Homo sapiens: one gene and its partner. The protein of the gene in region 2 interacts with the protein of the main gene of each other region in a biochemical or structural test. Each region holds a gene or a part of one and is shown on either strand. Other genes may lie near its edges.

Region 1 (3,753 bases), on a different chromosome or scaffold from region 2:
ACCCCTGGCCTCAAGTGATCCTCCCGTCTTAGCTTCCTAAGTAGCTGGGATTACAAGCACAAGCCATAGCACCTGGTAAGTCTACTCTTTAGCCTTGTAATCAGAGACATTTCTCTGGTCCCCTCTCCTCTGGCACTTTGCACAGCAGCCACCTGGAGTGACTTGTGGTTTGCCACAGGCCCGCCTGAAATGTACCTTCCCCAAGCCCCCATTCGCTGGCAAATTTTTGTTCTTTAAAAGCCAACTCAGATACCACGCTGTCTGTGATAGCTTCCTGGAAACAGCCCTTCTCTCCATATCACTTCCTTTTTCCTAATGTAGATACTTTGGTTGCCACCTTTTGTTCTTGTATCTCTGCCATCTCCATATATCCAGTATCTCTTCAACACAGTGCCCAGAATTTATTAAGCACTGACTAATAATGTTCTTTGTAGATCAGAACAAATATCAATAATTATACCATTTATTAAAAAAAGTAAAATTTAAAGGTAATTTTTTTAGAGTAAAAATGGTAACACAAAGAAAATAAGTGAAGAGGGAAAAGACCACACACTTTTGTGAATTTTCTTGAAATTTTATGTTTCAGATAAAATGTCTTTCCAAGCCGAACATGAGTTAGTATTGCCCTAGGGTCTAGAGTTAGTTATGCCAAGAATAATGTTAAGTTCCTAAACAATGACCACTATTAATTACTATATTTAACTCCTTTTAAGACCCCATCTCTATCCTTCTAACATTTATAAAATTGCAATGCATTATAGGCTTACAACTGGCAATGTTTGGGGTTTTGTTTTTGCTTAGAGAACTATAAAACAGGCTGGGCACAGCCAGCTCACGCCTGTAATCCCAGCACTTTGGGAGGCCTAGGTGGGCAGATCACCTAAGGTCGGGAGTTCGAGACCAGCCTGACCAATATGGAGAAACCTTGTCTGTACAAAAAATACAAAATTAGCTGGGTGTGGTGGTGCATGCCTGTAATCCCAGTTACTCAGGAGACTGAGGCAGGAGAATCACTTGAACCCGGGAGGCGGAGGTTGCGGTGAGCCGAGATCACACCATTGCACTCCAGCCTGGGCAACAAGAGCGAAACTCTGTCACACACACACACACACACACACACACAAAGAAAGAAACAAATATAAAATTATGGAGCATGTTAAATTCAATGAACCATAACAGACTTTAAGCCAGCGATAATGCAACTTGATATGCTGAGGTCAGCTGCAGAATATTTGTTTTTGGAAGGCGATAAATTCTTATTTATCTTATTTAGAAGGTGATCATATTCTTACTACTATTTAGGTCAAACAGTTATGGAACATGCAGAAGAAAAAAGAATGCAAAAGCTTCTTATAGTTTACTGTTACTCAACTGCAACAGTCTGTTCTTAACATAATTTTTACTTCTTAGAGGAATGGTAAGAACAAGGGGTGACATTGTTTTTATTTTTAACATGGATCGTATGTATAGGGTTTTCTGAGGGTCCACAGGTTTGTGTGTCTGGGGAAGGATATTCAGCTTTATTCAGATGTAGAATGCATTCAAAACTGATAGCCATGAACGGCAATCATTAACACGTGAAAAGGCGTTATATTATTTGAAGGTTTTCTATCATGGAGAACTCTAGTTTTTACCGTGATGGGGAAAGCTACTTACCATGGAATCCTGGAAATGAATGGTACAAGTGAATCAAGGCCAATATAGTTTCTAATACAGATGTGCCTATTGATATATTTTTAAAAGTTAGAAGGACAATTTTTTTTTCAAAACTACTCTTTTGTTTCCAGTGTGTGTATCAGTAGATGAGCTATAGAGTCCGCTCAGTGGAAAGTGCTTACACAGATGCAGGTTACTTAGACCTGACGATCGGCTGTGGAGAGACATGTGCTCTAGAGGTCCTTTATTGTCTCTTTTTAGTCTTTAATGAAATGTTACAAATGTTACCTCTTTACCGAAATTCCAGCATGCAGAGACCATGTTAATATGTAGCACACACAGCCCCTGACACTGCAGCCCTCAAATAAAAGTTAAAATTATACTGTTACCTTCTGGACCGCAAAGGGATCTCTCTGTTCATGGTCTAAGTATTTCTCCAGATTAAAGAAAGTGTCATAGAAGATGTGAGCCATTCTGCACCTCTTCAGATCTCTTAGAGTTATTTTGCCTACATAAAAATAAACAAATCTGGTAAATTTCATCAAGAGCTGTTTTGGCAAGAGGAAAAAACTTTCCCTGACATCTAAAAGTATAGGTATATGTTTATTATAAAAGTCCTATTTTCAGAATAAAAAAATTTAAATCTCATTTCTTTTTTCAAGGGTATCAATTTCTCAAACCCATTTCTTTTATTGAGGTAAAATTCACTAATAAAGTTCACCATTTAAACAATTTTAAAGTGCATAATTCAGTGGCTTTTAGTACACTCACAATGTTGTACAACCATTACCACTATCTAGTTCTGTAATAATATCATCACCCCAAAAGGAAACTCTGTGCCCATCAAGCAGTCCCTCCCATCTCTCCTCATGTGCTTTCTGTGTCTAAGGAAAAATCTTCTTTCATCCCCCAAACCCCGCTTTCATTTTCTTTTTAAAAAAGAGATACAGTCTCGCTGTGTTGCCTAGGCTGGAGTGCAGTGGCTACTCACAGGAACAATCATAATGCAATCCTCCCACCTCAGCATCCTTAGTAGCAGGGACTACAGGCATACACCACTGTGCCTGGTGTAAAATCCTATTTCTTAAATAGCAGACTTGCCATCAATTGCTACACTAAGCCTGGGCATGGTGACTCACGCCTGTAACCCCAGCACTTTGGGAGACCGAGGTGGGTGGATCACCTGAGGTCAGGAGTTCGAGACCAGCCTGGCCAACATGGTGAAACCCCATCTCTACTAAAAATACAAAAATTAGCTGGGCATGGTGGTGGTTGCCTGTAGTCCCAGCTACTTGGGAGGCTGAGGCAGGAGAATCACTTGAACCCAGGAGGCGGAGGTTGCAGTGAGCTGAGATCACACCATTGTACTCCAGCCTGGCAGACAAAGCGAGACTGCATCTCAAAAAAAAAAAAAAAAAAAAAAGTTGCTACACTAATAGTCAAGGAGAAACTTTAAACACTTCTGTCCTAGGAAGTCTTCTATCAAGACTCTGAAATGTTAAATAATTTAGGACAATCTAGGATTCTTTGCCCTCCTCTGATACATAGGTGAACAGTGCATCTGTCCCATTGCTTGGTCTCACCATCAACAGCTGGCTTCACTAGGTCAAGCATCTGGCACAGTAAATCATGGAATGGCAAGGGCTCAATTCCCATGGCTTCCATCCGTTCACACTGCTCCTCATAGAAGTACTCCAGCTCATACATGGAGAGTACACCGTCTCCATCCACATCCATGCAGCGGAACCAATACTCAATGCTAGATGATAAGGACAATCATTATCATGGGCCTGGTAAAGACCTTTTATTTATCCAGATTTAGTATGTTTCTTTTAAAGTAAAAGTTACATATTACATACACTTCAGGCTTAGATATAGTTTTACAAAGTTTGTTAGAGAAAATGGCGGACCCCTTCTTCCCTTTATTTTTCCACCCAGAATCAACCGTGTTCAACCCCATTTTGCTTTTTACCTTCCTATTTTCAGATAACACGTCTATATCGCTCCTTTCTTGTATTTATTTTCAGAACTATTATTAGAGGCTGGGCACGGTGGCTCATGCCTGTAATCCCAGCACTTTGGGAGACTGAGGTGGGC
Region 2 (3,753 bases):
GCCACCAAGAAGCGTTCCCATTTCTCAAAGCTTCAGTAAGCTGCTGCCTTGACACACAGTAAGTGCTCAATTAATAATTATTTTGGTGATGATGAGGAGCTCAGAGACCATTTTCACAAGAACAGAAAGCAGCGCTGCGCAAGCACCATGCACGGGGCATCAGCTCCCCCTGGTGGACCACAGCAGAGCTGCAGCATCCGGGCCTCCCTGCATGCCTACGCCCTCCCTGCCGGTGAAGCCACCCTAACCCCAGCTGGCCCCAATAGGTTGCAGGTGCTTGGCGAATTCTTGATTGCTCTCACTTGCTCAGAGGGCCCAGAGACCACCTGAAGCCCAAAACAGAAAGCAGTGAAGCTAGATAAGTACAGAGCCCCACAAGCAGCAGATACCTGTGCCGTAGTCAATGCGCGTGGAGTTCCCCACTGACTCCTTTAGGTAAACAGCCACCTCAGGCACAGCAGCTGCCAGATGGGTAGGGACCACTGTGGCCACCAAGTTTTCTGCTTCCTGGTAACACAAGAGACACAAAGTGGTGGCAGCATATTAAGCAGCATCCCAGTGGGCAGGTGCCCAGGGGCAGCACCTGACTGGGGGCCCACACTGCCTTGCCAGGCCAGCTTGGTTCCTGTTCTGACAGGCCACAGAAGGAAGGGGAGGGACAGCATTTATTCTTCCACAGCAGAAGACTACCCAGGCGACTTATCATCAACTGATTTTTCCAGGGCACAGGAGTCTAGGGGCAAAACAGGAGGAATCTGGAAAAAAGCCTCAACCCTCCCATGTGGTAACTCACTGGAGCCCCACAGAGACTCTGGAAGGTCAGTGCTATGATTCCCACACAGGCCACCTTCCTTCACACTCTCAGGTCAGCAAGAGCTGGTGTCATGTGCCATCAAAAGACGTGCAGAAGAATGTTCACAACAGCACTGTTTAGAGTAGCCAAAAGGTGGAAATGCAATGGAAATGTCCATCAACAGTGAAATGAATAAATTGTGGTATATTCATACAATAGAATACTACACAGCAAAGAAAAAGACCTATAGCTAGACATGAAAACATGGATGAATCTCAGACATGACATTGAGCAAAAGAAGCCAGAGAGTTATACGAAGTTCAGAAACATGGAAAAAAATCAATTTATGGAATAGAAATCAGAATAATCTGGGCGATATCAATTGGGAAGGGGAGCACTCCAGCTAGAATGTTCTATTGCTTGACATGAGTGGTGAATCCATGGGTAAAAAACTTGGCATGAGTGGTGAGTCCATGAGTAAAAACATGTAAAAATCCATCAAGCTGTAAAGCTATGATTTGTCAGCTTTAAGATATAACTTAAGGCTGGGAGCAGTGGCTCACACCTGTAATTCCAACACTTTAGGAGGCCAAGGTGGGCGGATCACCTGAGGCCAGGATTTCGAGATCAGCCTGGCCAACATGATGAAACCCCGTCTCTACTAAAAACACAAAAATTAGCCAAGCATGGTGGCGCATGCTGTAGTCCCAGCAACTTGGGAGGCTGAGGCAGGACGATTGCTTGAGCCCAGGAGGTCAAGGCTGCAGGGAGCTGAGATCATGCCACTGCACTCCAGCCTGAACAACAGGAAAAAAAAAAAAAAAAGATCATGTACCATCTTAAGAGTCCAGAGGCAGGCCCGGGCGTCTCTTGGGAACAGCACTTCACTGGGTCCTGAGTCCTCCCCTCTGCTCTATGTGAAAATATTGGGCCAGAGCAATTAGGACCCAAATTTCCTTAAGCTCAGTTGTAGACAACTGGCATGAGCCATCTCCTGGAAAGCTAGTAAAAATCCAGGTTCCCAGTCCCTACCCAGACCTGTAGACTCTGCTTTTCTAGACAGGGTCTGAGATCCTGCATTTTTATTTTTGTTTGCTTTGAATAGGTAACACCTTCGTAAGATTCAAAAATAAAAACATCAGTAGAGGATCAGTTCAATAGACTAGTCCATCCACACCATGGAGTATGCAGCTAGCATTCCAAGTGGGTGTGCAATGGCTCCATCATAGCTCACTGCAGCCTCAAACTCCAGAGCTCAAGTCATTCTCCTGCTTCAGCCACCCAAGCAGCTGGGACCAAAGGTGTGCACCACCATTTCTTATTTTTTGCAGTAACGGGGTCTTGCTATGTTGCCCAACCTACTCACAAACTCCTGGGCTCAAGTGATCCTCCCGCCTTAACCTCCCCGAATTCTGAGATTACATGTATGAGCCACCGTGCCCAGCTATGAAAAAAATTCCTTTTTGGGGCCGAGCGTGGTGGCTCACACCTGTAATCCCAGCACTTTGGGAGGCCGAGATGGGCGGATCACAAGGTCAGGAGATCAAGACCATCCTGGCTAACACGGTGAAACCCCGTCTCTACGAAAAATACAAAAAATTAGCCGGGCGTGGTGGTGGGTGCCTGTAGTCCCAGCTACTCGGAAGGCTGAGGCAGGAGAATGGCGTGAACCCAGGAGGTGGAGCTTGCAGTGAGCCAAGACTGCGCCACTGCACTCCAGCCTGGGCAACACAGCGAGACTCCGTCTAAAAAAAAAAAAAGATAAAATAAAAAATAAAAAAAATTCCTTTTTATAGCTGCACAGTACTCCATGATATTGATGGACTAATTTATTTAAATAATCCCCTACAGATGGATACTTGGAACATTTCCAGTTTGCTGTAATACAGTGACTTAATAAACAGCCTTGTAGTGCAGAGGGCCGTATGTGCACAGTCGTGTTTCCCAGAAGATGACCAAGCAGAGTATAAACTCATTTGTAATTTTGCTAAGTGAAATTGACATTTTAACAAACTGAGATTTGTATATGCCTAGAAGCGCTATACAATGCAGGCCCTTCCCCAACTGGTGCCAGAACCACCCTCACTGCCAGCCCAGTCCCTGGCCTGTCCTGTGGCAGCCTCACCTCATCAAGTTTGGCATACCAGGTCCTGTATGCCTTATTCCCAAACCGAGAGGGCTGGTCCACTGGAGGAGTCTCATCAATCCACCTGTCCAGCGTGTTGAGAAGAGCGACTAGTTTCTCAATGGCCTGTGGAGGCAAAATAGAGGGGTCCAAGCTACAGAGCAAGTGGCTCCCGCTTAGCCACAGAGGGAAGTCCACTGCTGCCAGACAATGACCCCTTGGCATGGCCCCTACTGGGAACTCTCCCCCATCCCTCTTTCTTCCCCACTGTTCTGAATATGAAGGAGGGTCAGGAGAGCATGATAGGCTTTCCAGAGAGGGAAGCACACTAGGCTGATGGGACAGGGACGGGGTGGCTTTAGCACCTGGTTTCTGTAGGCAGCCTACCCATGGGCTGCTGCTATAGAGAAGCTAACTCCAGCCCTGACATCTTTTTAAAAAGACTTTATGGAAGCCTTTTGTTCAGTATGCAATACCTACTCATCATAAAAAATAGAAATATAAACAGAAGAAAATGAAAATGACCAGTAATCCTGCCACCCAGAAATACACTAAACTTTTTTTTTTTTTTTTTGAGACAGAGTTTCGCTCTTGTTGCCCAGGCTGGAGTGCAGTGGTGCAATCTCGGCTCACTGCAACCTTTGCCTCCCAGGTTCAAGCGATTCTCCTGCCTCAGCCTCCCAAGTAGCTGGGACTAAAGGCGCACACCACCACGCCCAGCTAATTTTTGTACTTCTAGTAGAGATGGGGTTTCTCCATGTTAGTCAGGCTGGTCTCAAACTCCCGACCTCAAGTGATGCACCTGCATCGGCCTCCCAAAGTTCTGGGATTACAA

Evidence for each region. The genes of interacting proteins can lie anywhere in the genome.
Region 1: the proteins of PTPA (region 2) and PPP2R3A form a complex in vitro, tested with the Homo sapiens proteins (one study listed by BioGRID).

The regions. Positions count from the first base shown.
Region 1 is NC_000003.12:136,101,669-136,105,421, reverse strand, and holds part of PPP2R3A (serine/threonine-protein phosphatase 2A regulatory subunit B'' subunit alpha), read right to left. Parts: intron 3,416-3,753; coding exon 3,240-3,415; intron 2,165-3,239; coding exon 2,046-2,164; intron 1-2,045. UniProt on the Homo sapiens protein: The B regulatory subunit might modulate substrate selectivity and catalytic activity, and might also direct the localization of the catalytic enzyme to a particular subcellular compartment.
Region 2 is NC_000009.12:129,128,276-129,132,028, reverse strand, and holds part of PTPA (serine/threonine-protein phosphatase 2A activator), read right to left. Parts: intron 3,045-3,753; coding exon 2,919-3,044; intron 508-2,918; coding exon 390-507; intron 1-389. UniProt on the Homo sapiens protein: PPIases accelerate the folding of proteins. It catalyzes the cis-trans isomerization of proline imidic peptide bonds in oligopeptides. Acts as a regulatory subunit for serine/threonine-protein phosphatase 2A (PP2A).